Homo sapiens: one gene and its partner. The protein of the gene in region 2 purifies or fractionates together with the protein of the main gene of each other region. This does not show direct contact. Each region holds a gene or a part of one and is shown on either strand. Other genes may lie near its edges.

The links.
Region 1: the proteins of PCNT (region 2) and CDK5RAP2 purify together in Homo sapiens (co-immunoprecipitation; 4 studies listed by BioGRID and IntAct, with this or other methods). This does not show direct contact.

Annotation. Positions count from the first base shown.
Region 1 is NC_000009.12:120,436,700-120,444,787, forward strand, and holds part of CDK5RAP2 (CDK5 regulatory subunit-associated protein 2), read right to left. Parts: intron 7,044-8,088; coding exon 6,921-7,043; intron 3,274-6,920; coding exon 2,700-3,273; intron 829-2,699; coding exon 596-828; intron 1-595. UniProt on the Homo sapiens protein: Potential regulator of CDK5 activity via its interaction with CDK5R1. Negative regulator of centriole disengagement (licensing) which maintains centriole engagement and cohesion. Involved in regulation of mitotic spindle orientation.
Region 2 is NC_000021.9:46,326,719-46,334,806, reverse strand, and holds part of PCNT (pericentrin), read right to left. Parts: intron 411-8,088; coding exon 39-410; intron 1-38. UniProt on the Homo sapiens protein: Integral component of the filamentous matrix of the centrosome involved in the initial establishment of organized microtubule arrays in both mitosis and meiosis. Plays a role, together with DISC1, in the microtubule network formation.

The DNA.
Region 1 (8,088 bases), on a different chromosome or scaffold from region 2:
ATGTGGCAAATGCTAACAACTGATGAAGCTGGGTGCACAGTAAATGGGAGTTCTTTGCTGTAGTCTCAAAAAAAAATTATTTTAAAAATTTTACCTAGCACATAGCAAAGGTTTCTTTCACCCTTCCTCTGGCCATCCTTAACTCTTCGATATACTTTTTAACTGATAAAAATTTTGCTTGGTTGACTGGATTTTTTGCTTGCCAACATTTAAAACACATGAGTTTTCACAAAAAAAAATAAATAAATAAAAAATCCCATCTTTTCTGGAAAATTTGTAAGATGCAAGAACTGGCAACTACGTGACCACTGCTGAGTGAGAGGCAGTGCCTTCTGGCTGGCTTCACTCATGTACCTCACCAGCCCGGCCCCTGAGGCGTCTAAACTGGACTCCTGGTTTGTAACAGTGCCGACCACAAGCCATGTGGAAGTGGTCACTGGGAGGAAGCAGCAGCCAGTGTGGTTCTGCTGTCACCTCATCAAGGCAGAGGGGTGAAAGATAACTAAGGCCAAGGAGTTAGCTCCTCCTGTGCCCCTCCAAGAAGTCCTGGGTCAATTACTGATGTCTTAAGACTCGCGTACCTCACCCTACCTACCGTTGAGAAATAGCTTTTCCAATTTCTCCAGCAGCTCAGCACATTGATTCAGCTGTTCCTGGAAACCCTCGGCCACACAGTAATCCACATCACTGGCCTGCAGCAACTCCTCAAATGCCTTAATCATGGTGTTCATGTGTTGACGGGAGATGACACAGATGCCATGGCCATCCTTAATCTGCTGCCGTTGAAGGGAGAGCTCCCTGGCTTGGGACTGAACTAATGAATCGTATCTGATAAAAGAGGGGAAAGAAAATACTTGGACCATTTTAGAATTGAATTTTTGTGACCTTAACACTAATTGGAAAAATGACAGAGTACAATTTTTAAAAGCCTGCAGCTGTACAAGTATATATACTTTTAGAAAAATTGAAACTGTACAAGGTCAGCTCTTCTTTGATTTCACACAGCCAACAAAGGCTGGAACAAAGATTCTTCTGCAACATTTTTAACCTTATAAAGCCCCCAATTAAAGTACAGATTGGCAAGAACTCAGGCAAACAATAAGTTTCCATACACTCTTCAAAAATACTATTCTGAATTGTAGAAACAAGTGCCCCAAGGGTCAGAGGATCTACCAAAAATTCTCATGAAGTGTGATAAAGAAAGTGTACCACAAAGAAAAAAAGACAGGACTCTCTCCTCCCGAACAAAACGTCACTGAATAATCATGATGCTAACTACCATTTACTGAGGGTCTAGGACCTGTCAGTAACTGAATTCAGTGCTTTATATGTTATCTGATCCTCTCAGTCTTCCAACAAATGTATAAATGTCCCCTTTTACAGAAGAATAAACTGACTGCAAAGCTAATTAAGTGGTAAAGATTTTGGATTCAAACACAATTCTCACTTTGAAGATCATTATGCAATATTACCTTTTTACCGTCATGTGCCACCTTTTCCTACGTGAGCCCATAAGAGAAAGACACTGAGAAGTAAACAGGTTAAGGGAAATGTGACTCATGTAAACTGGCCACAATAACCTTGCTCCAGAGAGTAGCTTGGCAAAGATGTTGACACTTCAGTTCAACATAATTTTCTCCTTCCTGGAAATGACAACACTACATGGGCTGGCAGTCACCTTCAACATAGAGTGTGCACATGCAGATTACATGATACCAGCATTAAAGGTGGGGGCCAGTATCATGTGAGTACTGGAGTAACATGGGTAAACATGGGTAACTCATGAGTAACATGAGTAAACATGGGTACTGGAGTGGGATGATGTGGGCTTGAACCCTGGCAATGGCTCTGACCAGCTCTGTGAATGTTCTCTGCCAAGTCACTGCAGCTACTTTGAGGCTCAGTTTCCCTACCTGTAATAACTAGTTTAAGAATACCTCCTTCTCAGGTGATTTTGAGGATTAGATAAGAAAAGTGCCTAACCAGGGGCCTGAGACAACAGCCTTTCAATAATTACAAGCTTCCTTCAATCTCACTGCTTGGGAAGTCTTGAAAAATTCATCCTGGCTCCTGACAATTCAGAACAATGTGTTTGACTCAAATTAGTGACAAATGAAGGTCAACTTTACTAATGATCCCATTTTTGCCATATCTCATGAAGCAAAACCGTATATATCTATGCCCATAAAGCATTATCTTCATGACCTAAGAATTCTTCTCTTTCAACACAAGCTTATTTCTCTAAGATGACCTTAAAGGGTAAAGATATGGAAAATATTTATATTCCTCCTACCTTGCCTAGACATCAGTTTTAGTTTCACAGCACAGCAAAAGCCAGTAACAGAGTCCAGGAGTACACACTGCAGTTCAGCAAAGGCACTATCACTCACCAAGTGACTGGTATGAAACCTTTACCCTGAGCCCCCAACTTGAGGAGGGCGAAATCTGCCCTGCAGATTTCCAGAGGACCCAAGACTCGTAACTGACGTTCAAGTGCGTGGTCGCTGTTCCTCTTCTTTGTGGCCTCACCTCTCCCTTCTCCACAGGACCTGGCTGCCTGAACCCCACCATCAAGCCTTCCCCAGAACACACTCTACCCATCACAGAGTAGTGTTCTCTTTTAGCTCATGGGCTCCCACCTAGTGGCAATACTGGGGGACTACAGGCTTAAACGGGGAGACGGCAGAGGTGGAACGTACCTGGGAGGTGAGAGATCTCTGAACTTATTCTGCAGATTATGGATCTCACTGAAAAGTTGCATGTTCAAATTCTGCTCCTTCTGCAGCTTGTATTCCTGTTCCTCCAGCTGCTGTTTGAGGTTCTCCAGCACCCTGCTGTCAATCATCTCTGGGGCCAGCGGACCGAGGATTTTCACGTGTTTCACGTATCGCACTTGGTGCAAACTTGAAAAGGTCATTTCTTCCCCATCAGAACCATTCTTGGGCTTGCTCAAGCCATCCTGGGCCCCTTCTGTCCCACACAAAACTGTAATTATGGCCTCACTGCACTGGGAGTGCTTTTGAAGCTGAAATATGAAATTCTGGTAGCCTTCCAGCTCAGTTTCCAAGTCATGGATTTTCTGTTTTAAGTATTCTGTCTCATTTGAGGTATTAATGCTCTCTGACTGATCAGTCCCCATCACACTGACTTTAGCAGAAGGCTGACTCTTGGAACTCAGGTAAGTAGCTACTGAAGTTGGGCTCAGAACATCTTCAGGATTTTCTTTGCATGATGGCAAGCTGGCAAGGTCATCAGGTGGGCAAATCTCAGAGTCTGAAAATCAAATACACTTATGTCAGTATCTCTTTTACTAAAATCCAAACCCTCTCTCCTTCCTCACAGCCCTAGCCAAGCCAAGACCACTGCAGTGACCTAACAAGCCTCCCTCAAAAAGGCCCTAGTATTTCCTAACACACTTCCCTCAAAAAGCCTCCAGTCTTTCCTAACAAGCCTCCCTCAAAAAGCCCTAGTCTTTCCCTCTTTACCCCTCAGTTGTCCTCTTCCTCAGAGTGACTGTTCTAAAAAGTAATTTTAACCATGATAAACCCACACACACACCCCCTAAAATTCATCGACATTCCCAGTATCTACATGAGACCTTCCATGATCTAGTTCCAGGCAACCTTTCCAGGAATATCTCTGGCACCACTCTGGAGATTTCCTACAAAATTAACCATGATTCCCTGCACATTGCGTGCTGTGTCATGCCTCCATGCTTTTGCATGGGCCGTGCCCTCTGCCTGGAACACCTTCAGCCCTCTATTCTACTCCTACCTAATGAACTCTTTCCATACCCAGATCTAATTTTCCTTCCTCTGCAAGCCCACTGCCAAACTATGCAAAAGTCACAACTCGCTGTGGTTCTGTAGCACCTTATGCATATTACTCAAGACAAATATACTATGTGCTGGGTGCTAAAGTAAAAATTTTAAGTGGCTTATTTATTGATTCACATAGCAATTCGTCATCTGAATGTAGCTCTCCCTCACCAGACTGCACGTTTCTTCACAGCAGAGATGTGGCCTTTCATTTTCACATTCTCGGCGTCTAGTACAGAACCTAACCCAGACCAGAAGTCAGTGCCAGTGTGAGAAATATTGAGAGATTCTGTGAAGCAACAGTAAAGAGTGGTAATTCTGAATATCCACAACACGTGACAGTCTTCTCATTTCCATGTCTAATGGCTTCCAGGAGATGCCCTGACATCCCCTTTAGTGAGGTGTTTCACTCACTCACAACACTGCCAGGAAATATTTCCTTATAGCTAGTAATAGCTAAACCCTTAGAGATGCAGTCAAACTTGTTTCAGAAGTGGAGTAGTACAGCAGAAAGAATATGAAGTTTGAAGGCCACACAGCCTGAGGCAAGTGACTTTACTATCCAAGAGCCTCAGTTTCCCCTGTGTCTAAAATGTAGAAAGAGATGTCTCATATGGTTGTAGTGCAGCTTCTGTTCTTAACCACTGTGCCACACTGCTGGCTGCCCAGGGAAAGTTCCGTTCAATATAGAGAGCTGTCTGAATACTTAAGGGGCAGCGGAATGTAGTAGAAAAACCTGTCTTTGAAATTCAACAGACATGGTTTCAAACTCTGGCTCTGTCACATAGGCAAGTTACTTGACCTCTCTGAGCTTTAGTAGCTTTATCTGTAAAATGGAAAGAACATCACTGAAAAGTTGTGTGTGTGTGTTTGTTTTTAGGGATTATATGGAACAAAATCTGCAAAAAGAAAAAAAAGGCTAGCACAGTGTCTGGCACATAGTAGTGAAGGAATCCAAGTAACACAAACATCCTCTAACCATTCCAAGATAGAAGGAGATGCCCTTCACCGGAGGCGTGCGTGCGAAGGCCAGCCTGGAAAAATGCTACAAAAGCAACAACGTGGGTTGGACTGGGTGACCTAGGAGATCTCTCAGAAAGAAATTCACACACAAATCCTCATCAGACTGCATGTCCCAATTTCTGGTTCTGCAATCTGCTCCTTGTGACTTGAGGTACACTCTTGTATCTGTTCATGATGCAAATACCATAAAGTATGGCATTTCATTTCAGAAAGCAGCTGCTACCTGACCTAAAGGAAGCATTCCTAATACAGTATTTTTATTATACACAATGTTATGATAATTACTCAATAAGAGCCTTGAGGGTGCAGACCGTGTCATCCATGTCTGTTTCTCCAGTATCTAGCACAGGGTCTGCGACAGAGAATGTACTCACCAAGTATTTCTGGCTGAACAAGAAAGAGAAAGAGGAACTGGGGAGGGAGATATCTCTCCATAAGGCTTTTTTTCCAGTGAATCACCCTCCAAGACAAGAAAATATCTTTGCTGTAATAACCTCATGATAATAGAATTTGGTCTGTACTTCATGGCAAGAAGCGTGTTCACTCATGGAAATAAAGATTAGTTCCCAGGACTTTCCTTAAGTAATTATGAGGCATCACTAGTACCCCCATTTTACAGAAGAGGAAGTTGAGGCTTAGGGAGCTTAAGAATTTGCTTAGGGTTCAGGGTAGGTAAGCAGTAGAGCCCCTCCTCAAAGCCTGGCAGTCTGCCTCTAACACTCTGAATGATGCTTCCCGAAGTAACACTCCTGCAATCCAATCTCCTGTACCGCGGTGCATGAGCAAAGAGAGAGAGAGTTCTTAACCCTCAATGTGAAGGCCAAGATGCCTGTAAAATCCTTTATTCACATCCCAAGTATCTGTCAAGGGCCTTGTGAAAAAGAAACAGCAATGAAGATGTCACACGCAGCACCCAGCCTCAGCTGCGCAACAATTAAAAGGTGGAAGTTCAGGCAGATGCAATTCACATACAAAGTTCTGGAAGCACATTCAGAAAAATGAAAGACATTCAGTAATGAAGGGAAGTACTGACAGGGAAAGGGAAGCTGTCGATTAGTTAAGAAGTCTGTATTAATAACTATCAAGAAGAAATCAAAAGATGTCCCCAAGACCATTTATGAATATTTGCATTATAAGAAATACTATAGTTCTACAACTTTCCACAATTCAGCTAAGGGGGACTTTATTGCCTGGTAGAGTAGCTTTCTCCTCAAAGCCCAGAACACGCAGAAGCATGTGACCATGTGTTCACTGCAGTGACTCTGGACCTTGCAAAAGTATACAACAGTGTATATACCACAACTCAGTATTTTTCCAGAGACTGGTGTCCCCATGGCCATCCCATGACAAATTTAGGATTCTTGAGGACAATTATTTCTAACAGAGTGAATTAGATCTGGATTAATAGTGATTTTTTTTAATGAAGGGGGAAAAATATCTAACATAAAAAGAATGTAGGCATTTGTTCATTCTGGTTGAATGAGAACATGAGTATTTGTTATATTATCTTTTGTGCTTATGTATGCTTCTAATACTTCATAATTTTAAAAAGAAAGGAATACAACTTGCCTCTGCCCTCACCCGTATCTCTGCACCTTTTCCACTGATCTGCCTGGCAAACCCCACAAACCCAGTCTCAGCCTCAGGCTCTCTTCTGACCCACTCCTCCTGGGCACACGGACCAACACCAAGCACACCTCAGCAACAGGCAGCCCCGCGCTGAATACTAACAGGCTGTTGGGATGATTGTCTCCTCCGAGCTGTGGGGTCCCTAAGAGCAGGCTGTGTCTTTTCATGTTGAACCACCAGAACCCAGCCCACTGCCTGGTAGAGAAGCATGCTGACACATGGACGGGTGGGTTCTGACATCCTACTGTACCTTGACTCTTCTCCTACTTACCAGCTGGGTGACCCTGGGTCAATTATTTCTTAAAACCTCAGCTTCCCATGTGTTAGACTGGAATGATAATAATGCCCTGAGAGGGCTGCTATGGGCTTAGTAATAATTTTTAGATAAAACATCCAAATGGTGCCTGGCACATGGAAGCTGTTCAATACACACAGGGGCTGAATTCTGACCAATCTCGTAGCTTCTTTGCTGATCACTGTCCATTTCCTTGTCTCTCCAGACAGAAGATGTGGTTTTAATTCCTTTCTGCTCTCCTGGGCTGTCCTGGTAGGCTGCTCCCACAGGGGGCTGAGCTACAGGCAATCACAAAGAGAAAGAAAAATAAATAAAACCGTAAGACCTGAAACTTAGCCAAGCAACTGAGAAGAACACAAAGATACAACAGGGAAAATAAAAACACTGGGGAGGCAAAATGCAATTTATAAGATAAAATTAATCTATCGAGCTGCCATAACAGGACATAAAAAGCATAAATATACTGCAGCTTGTCTGAAATGGTTTAAGTCCAGGCTCTCAAAAAGCTGAGTGAGAAAATGAATTCTATCAATTCGTGCCCATTTTTCCCAAGAAGAGAGAGGCCCTAGGGTCTCCTGGGCAACTGTTTGAGGTAGCACCTGGAGTTGAGGCACTCTGGTGTCTCAGCAAAAAATAAAAACAGTATTGAGTGCAAATGGCAAGCTAGGAGCCAGCATGGTGGCTCATGCCTATAATCCCAGCACTTCGGGAGGCCGAGGCAGGGGGGCCACTTGAGGCCAGGAGTTCAAGACCAGCCTGGGCAATATAGCAAGACCCCCATCTCTACAAAATATAAAAAATTTAAATTTGAATTTTAAAAAATGGCAAGCTATGGGCAAAGTGCCAGGGCCTCTGTTGAGCTGAGTTACCTTTGCCATAAAATCTTTCCTCCATGAAGGTCCCCACAACCCTGTATTGATTTAGTTAACTGCCACCTCCCCAAGCCCACACCAGATGGGGAGTTCTCAGAAGGCAGAGACTGCATCTGATTTATTTCTCTCCTACCCCCAGTGCATGAGGCTGGAAACATAGCAGGTGCTCAGGGAATGTTCACTGAATGAATGAAAAGATGTCTGGATGATGGTTGAATGGATTAGAAGAAGGTAGATAAGGAGGTGGTAAGGGAAGAGCAATTCTGCCAAAGGTCTTCTTATCTGGAAACCTCAACTATGGTAAACCCAAAAGAAAACTTAAAATTAAATGGAACATACCTTTGGCTATGGATCTTCATAAAATCCATACAAGAAGTATCACATACTAGGCTTTGTGAAACAGTAAAGAACATGGACTTTGAAATTAGGCAGGCTGATTCCCACCTAGCTA
Region 2 (8,088 bases):
GACAAAGAATACACCTTAACAGAGAACTTAAAGAATACCTTTGTGAACATCCCACGCTGTTCTGCTGGGTGGTCACTGATTGTGAAGATCCCACGCTGTTCTGGTGTGTGGTCACTGACTGTGAACATCCCACGCTGTTCCGGTTGGTGGTCACTGATTGTGAACATCCCACGCTGTTCTGGTGGGTGGTCACTGACTGTGAACATCCCATGCTGTTCTGGTGGGTGGTCACTGACTGTGAACATCCCACGCTGTTCTGGTGGGTGGTCACCGACTGTGAACATCCCATGCTGTTCTGGTGGGTGGTCACTGACTGTGAACATCCCACACTGCTCTGGAGGATGGTCATTGACTTGCTTCTGCTGCAGCTGTTCCAAGTCCTCTCTCTTCTCTCCATCACAGTCCTCCGGCTAAGAAGGGGAGGACCAGAAAGAAGCATTTAAAGCAAGGTCTAGGGCTGCAGCCTCAGGCCCTTCCCAGCTCCTCTATCTGCAGGCCTGTGCTGACTTCATTTAACAAGTAGAGCTCACTTCCACCTGTTCAGAACGTGCACCTTCCGCATTAACAATTCCCAAGCTCTAAACATTTTTTTTTTTTTTTTTGAGACGGAGTCTTGCTCTGTCGCCCAGGCTGGAGTGCAGTGGCACAATCTCAGCTCACTGCAATCTCCGCCTCCTGGGTTCACGCCATTCCCCTGCCTCAGCCTCCCTAGTAGCTGGGACTATGGGTGCCCGCCACCACGCCCAGCTAATTTTTGTATTTTTAGTAGAGACAGGGTTTCACCATGTTAGCCAAGATGGTCTTGATCTCCTGACCTCGTGATCCGCCCGCCTTGGCCTCCCAAAGTGCTGGGATTACAGGCATGAGCCACCACACCTGGCCAGCTCTAAACATTTTTATAATGCAAGTAATTTCCCTAATGATGTTCCTGCCCCTCTTCTTAATGAATTCTACTTTTTTTTTTTTTTTTGAGACGGAGTCTTGCTCTGTTGCCAGGCTGCAATGCAGTTGCACGAACTCGGCTCACTGAAACCTCCACCTCCTGGGTTCAAGTGATTCTCCTGTCTCAACCTCCCGGGGGTTTCACCATGTTGGCCAGACTGGTCTTGAACTCCTGACCTCAGGTGATCCACCCGCCTCGGCCTCCCCAAGTGCTGGGATTACAGGTGTGAGTAACCGTGCCCAGCCTGTAATTTTTTTTTTTTTTTGAGACAAAGTTTCACTCCGTCGCCCAGGCTGGTGGCATGACCTCGGCTCACTGCAACCTCCGCCTCCGGGTTCAAACAATTCTCCTGCCTCAGCCTCCCGAGTAGCTGGGACTACAGGCGCATGCCACCACGCCCGGCTAATTTTTTTTTTCTTTTTTGTCTTTTTTGAGACGAAGTCTCACTCTGTCACCCAGGCTGGAGTGCAGTGGCACAATCTCAGCTCACTGTAAGCTCTGCCTCCCGGGTTCACGCCATTCTCCTGCCTCAGCCTCCTGAGTAGCTGGGACTACAGGCGCGTGCCACCATGCCCAGCTAATTTTTGTATTTTTAGTAGAATCGGGGTTTCACCATGTTGACCAGGATGGTCTCAATCTCTTGACCTTGTGATCTGCCCAACTCGGCCTCCCAAAGTGCTGGGATTACAGGTGTGAGTCACTGCGCCCGGCCATGAATTCTACTTTAAAAAAGAAATTTAATTAATTTTTTGAGACAAGGTCTTGCTCTGTCACCCAGGCTGGCGTGCAGTGGTGCAATCCCAGCTCACTGCAACCTTAACCTCCTGGGCTCAAGTGATCCTCCTGCCTCAGCCACCTGAGTAGCTGGAACTACTGGCATGCGCCACTGTGCCCAGCTTATTTTTTATTTTTTTGTAGAGACAGGGTCTCTGTTCATTATGTTCCAAAGCTGGCCTCAAAATCCTGGGCTCAAGCAATCCTCCCACCTCAGCATCCCAAAATGCTGGCAATACAGGCATGAGCCACAGTGCCCAGATTAGCTTGCTTTAACAAGATGATTCACTAAGAACATTTCAATTTCTTCCCAAAATAGCAAAGAAACATGACAGTGTCGACTTTTCGGGATCATTAGATGAGTCACAAGATGAATGCAGAGAGAGAGCACCCATGGCCAATGATGATGGCAAAACTGACGTGAAAATAAAATCTCAGACAAGTCTTCATTTGACAATACCCTAGATCAATCTTCTCAGAATCAAGAGGAAGTGAGGGACGAAAAGGGGACACAGTAGTCTCAATCAGCTGCCCGCTCACATGAATGATCACACTTCAAAGGAACCTGGACCATCCACTTCCTTAAGAGGACACTTCTAATGTTTGTGTGTCAAAACTTACTTGATACAAAGAGGTTGGATCAAATTTCTTATAAAGTTGTTTTAAATTATTGCTTTATTCTTACTTCTGTAAATTACGTGTAAAACAACTTAAAATGACAAAACAGTAAAACGGCCCAGAAATCTAGATGATAAATGGTGATAACTATTTTTCCTGGTATTTGATACAAATATGAGTTGGAAAAGTGCTAGAACCACACTTCTTAAGCCTTCTATAGCACTAGTTAAATCTTCTTCAGCCAAAGTTTTTGTATTTTCTTCTGAAATTCTTGACCTCTGAGCAATTTTTGGATGGTTCTCTTTTTTTTGGAGATAAAGTCTCGCTCTTGTCCTCCAGGCTGGAGTGCAATGGCGCGATCTCGGCTCAGTGCAACCTCTGCCTCCCGGGTTCAAGTGATTCTCCTGCCTCAGCCTCCCGAGTACCTGGGATTACAGGCGCCTGCCATGAGACCCGGCTAATTTTTGTATTTTTAGTAGAGATGGGGTTTCACCACGTTGGCCAGGCTGGTCTCGAACTCCTGACCTCAGGTGATCTTCCTGCCTTGGCCTCCCAAAGTGCTGGGATTACAGGCATGAGCCAATGCGTCCCGCCAGATGGTTCTTTTACCAAAAAATGGCCTCTCCTCACTTTGTTCCTCATCTGTAACTGAAAGGTCAAATTCTGCTTTCTACCATTGCTTTATTTTTATGATTTTTTTTTTTTTGAGACAAGGCCTTGCTCTGCCGCCCAGGCTGGCGTGCAGTGGTGCCACCATAGCTCACTGTAGCCTCAAACTCCTGGGCGCAGGTGATCCTCCCAACTCAGCCTCCTGAGTAACTGGGACTACACGTGTGCACTGTCATGCCCAGCTAATTTTTATATTTTTCATAGAGACAGAGTTTCAACCATCCTCCCACGTTGGCCTCCCAAAGTGCTCGGAGCCACCATGCCTGACCTTGCTTTCTGCCATTTCTGAGTTAACTTTCAGAACTGAGACAGCTGTTGCATTGTTTCAACTATTTTTCCATCATGCACTTAACAAATTGTAAGGCAACAGAGCCGAATCCTGAATATTTACCACAAAGTCTTTCTGCAATTCTACCTTCGCTTATAACCATCCTGAAAAAAAACTAAGATCTTAAAGTTGGTTAAAAATATGTCTTATATCAGCTGGGCACAGCGGCTTATGCCTGTAATCCCAGCACTTTGGGAGGCCGAGGTGGGAGGATCACCTGAGTCAGGGAGGTCAAGGCTGAAGTAAGCTGATTGGGCCACTGCACTCCAGCCTGGGCGCCAGAGGGAGGACCTGTCTCCAAAAAAAAGAAAAAAGACTTATGCTAGAAATCATCAGTATTTACCTAACAGTTAGTGATCAAAGTAAGCAATTTATTATATGTTGGAAAGCACAATAACTTCTCCCTCCCCCTCACACACACATACACACACTCTCACACACACACAAACACACACACTTATCTTCTTATGCTGTTCAATAAGCTCACTAGACTCTCCATAGCCAAACCTCTCACAATTTATAGATGGGTAAAATAAAACAAATGCACCTTTCATTATGTTTAAAGCACTGGTACAACTATAACATAAAGGTTCCTTGAGGATTCCTGATCTCCGACGCAGCATGACCAACCATCTGAGAGGGGAGTGCCCTGGCCTGGGACATTATTCGGCCACACGGCCACCAGCTGCTAGCTTTAAACAGTGGACTCTTTCCTAGAATTTCACTTTTCAGAAGATCATTATTTTGAACACAAAATTACTCCTATTTTAACATCTACAACTGGATTAAAGGCATACTAAACTCAAATATCATGAAATATTTTATAATACATATGAAAAAAACTCCTTTTTAGACTGAACTGATGATGTACAATGATATAATCAGAAAAAAGTTAATGAAATATCTGCTTCTAAAGCACCAATGGTTTTTATATACATAATTGACAAAATGGCTTAAGAAATTTGATTCCTAACTTAGTGTACAGCAGAAAGACAATGGCTCTATTCTACACATACTACTTAGTTTACCTATACATGTATAAAGAAAATAAATTTTAGCCAGGTGGGATGGCTCACACCTATAATTCCAGCACTTTGGGAGGCCGAGGTGGGAGAATTACTTGAGCACAGGAGTTTGAGACCAGCCCTGACAACACAGTGTAACACTGTCTCTACAAATTTTTTTTTAAGTTAGCCAGGTATGGTGGCACATGCCTGTAGTCCCAGGTACTAGGGAGGCTGAGGCAGGAGGGTCACTTGAGGCCAGGAGGTCAAGGCTGGAATGAGCCATGATTGCGCCACTGCACTCCAGCCTGGTCAAGAAAACAAGACCCTATCTCAAAAAAAAGGGGGAAAAAGCTGATGTCCAAGATCCAATAGGGGTTAATACCTGATGACTGCATGTTTAGCTTATTAAAATGTCAGGAATTCTGTGGAAAAAGCTGACTGGTACCTGACCTTTGCCCACCATTTTAGAGCCAATGGACAGGAAGAGGAGGTATGTCTCTGCTGATGTCAAGCTGTAACTGTGCAGAGGAGTTCAGGATGACGATGTGAGATGAAAATCAGTCAGGCCCTGCCATGCCTTCATTCCATGAAGAATCCTGGCTGCAGGAGCACATACTTTTCCTAGAGAAAGTATCCTTACATTTTACCAGCTTTTGGTTTTTAAAATACTGCTTTAAACAGTTAAGTTACTACTCACAGCAACAGTTATAAGTAACAGAATGCTTTACCTTGGCCATCTTGCCATTGTTTCACCAAGTTTTGTGAAAGCAGACCTCTCCTCACATCTGCCACACCACCCCACGCTTGAGGGTGAAGTGTCCTGTCCACTGTGGTCACGAGGAGGTGACACAAAATGCAGCAAGTGCAGTGAGTGTGCGTGTGCATCTCTAAGTCAAGGGGACCAGTAATGGGCCTGTTATTTATAGATTGCTTTAAGATGTCCAAAATACATGTTTTATTAGTGGTATAGTTAATTCTAAAATGAAAAAAAATGTTATATAAGTAACCTAATGTGTTTATTGTAGGAAATACCAAAAACCATAACAACGAAAAAACCAACAACTCTATTCCTTTCTGACCACCACTGTTAATTTTCTGGTATATGCCCTTCTGGTTTTGAAAACAAAAATCAAAATGCTTTTCATCAGATCATCTTCCTGAATGAAGGCATGCATCAAATAGCAGAGTTAGAAACTAAGAGAGTCTCTACCTGATGAAACAGCAAAGTATGAGTGTTTAATCAGGAGTCTATACCATGCCTTCTAATGTTAACGACCCATCAGTCTCCAAATACAATTTACCACAAAATGTGCTAAGTTTGGAATGGTTTTCTGATAGGATCCTGAGATTCCCACATATATTTATCAGCTTACTACTTTTAAAACGTCTATGCAGGCCAGGCACAGTGGCTCACGCCTGTAATCCCCACACTTTGGGAGGCCGAGGCAGGTGGATCACGAGGTCAGGAGTTCGAGACCAGCCTGGCCAATGTGGTGAAACCCCATCTCAACCAAACAAATACAAAAATTAGCCGGCCATGGTGGTGCCCACTTGTAATCCCAGCTACTCGGGAGGCTGATGCAGGAGAAACGCTTGAAATCGGGAGGCAGAGGTTGCAGGAAGCAGAGGGCGTGCCGCTGCACTCCAGCCTGGATGACAGAGTGAGACTTCGCCTTAAAGAAAAAAAAAAAGTATGTGCAACCAGAGGGCCGGGTGCAGTGGCTCACGCCTGTAATCCCAGCACTTTGGGAGGCCAAGGTGGGTGGATTGCTTGAGGTCAGGAGTTGAAGACCAGCCTGACCAACATGGTGAAACCCTGTCTCTACTAAAAATACAAAAATTAGCTGGGTTTGGTGGCAGGCGCCTGCAATCCCAGCTACACGGGAGGCTGACGCAGGAAAATCGCTTGAACCCAGGAGGCAGAGGTTACAGTGAGCCAGGACTGCACCACTGCACTCCAGCCTGGGCAAAAGAGTGAGACTCCATTTCAAAAAAAACCAAAAAACATATGCAACCAGAATATATCAAAAGTAACTTTCTGCCCAGCAAGGTGGCAGAAATCCTGTAATCCTGGCACTTTGGGAGCCTGAGGCAGGAAGATCGCTTCAGCCTGGGAGGCAGAGGTTGCACTGAGCAGAGTTCGCGTCACTGCGCTCCAGCCTGGGCAACAGAGAGACTGTATCTTAAAAAGAAAACGGGAAAAAAAAAAAAAACACACCAACCCAACAACCAAAAACACTCAAGAGATAAAAAGCAAAATTCAGGATTTGTAGGTAGAATAACACAAATTTTAACTGTTGCCAACAACTCAATTTTTTAAGTAAAGCAGGATACATACATTATGACCTTGAGCCAGATTCTGCCTTTGGCCACCAGTTTTCCAGCAAATCCTAGCAAACATCAAAGCCTGCACCCATTCTGCTGCAGCAGCAGGGACACTCAACACCTAAGGCCCTCGTTCATAATTCATACAAAAGGCCCAAGGACAGCCCGCCTCCAGGCAGGTTTGTAGGCCCCCAAGGAGCCCGGAAGGCCAGCCCCTTCAGGACTCAGTGTGCACTCACCTGCCACACCTGCCCATGGGGGTGCCCCTGCAGCTCACAAGGCCTCAAGCAGCAGACCCAGTCTCCTCCAGCAACACACCATGTCTGCAACACCTTCACCCCTTCCCTCTTCATCTCACGTTTAGTAAAAAGGTAAAAGACAAATGTGACAAGCAGGTGCATTTACAACTATGTGAAGGAATATTATGTTTTAAATGTCCCAAGAAACACCCATCAAAGGGGCTGACACGACCACACACGAAGAACTCCCAGTCTTCCATTACAAAGCAAACAACTGACACTTGTCTTCAAGTAGTTAATCCAAAACTTCTCAAAATTACATAATAAAGATAAAACAGGGCCAGGCGCAGTGGCTCATGCCTATAATCCCAACACTTTAAGAGGCTGAGGAGGGAGGATCACTTGAGCCCAGGGGTTTGAGGCTGCAGTGACCTGTGATCACACCACTGCACTCCAGGCTGGGCAACACAGCAAAACACTGTCTGGAACAAACAAAAGAAAAAAAAAGAAAAAGAAAACCCAAATTTATTAAGAATAAAACCATAGGCCGGGCACGGTGGCTCATGCCTATAATCCCAGCACTTTGGGAGGCCGAGGCGGGCAGATCACGAGGTCAGGAGATTGAGACCATCCTGGCTAACACAGTGAAACCCCACCTCTATTAAAAATACAAAAACTAGCCGGGCGTGGTGGCGGGCGCCTGTAGTCCCAGCTACTTGGGAGGCTGAGGCAGGAGAATGGCATGAACCCGGGAGGCGGAGCTTGCAGTGAGCCGAGATCGCGCCACTGCACTCCAGCCTGGGAGACAGAGCGAGAATCCATCTCAAAAAAATAAAAAATAAAATAAAAAGAATAAAACCATAAAAATTTACTCACTGTTTTTTTTTTTTTGAGAGAGAGTCTCGCTCTGTCACCCAGTCTGGAGTGCATTGGCGTGATCTCGGCTCAATGCAACCTCTGCCTCACAAGTTGAAGCTATTCTCCTCCCTCAACCTCCCGAGTAGCTGGGATTACAGGTGTGCGCCAGATGTCCGGCTAATTTTTGTATTTTTAGTATAGACAGGGTTTCTCCATGTTGGCCAGGCTGGTCTGGAACTCCTGACCTCAGGTGATCCGCCTGCCTCGGCCTCCCAAAGTGCGGGGATTACAGGCGTAAGCCACTGCACCCGGCCCTCACTTTTTATA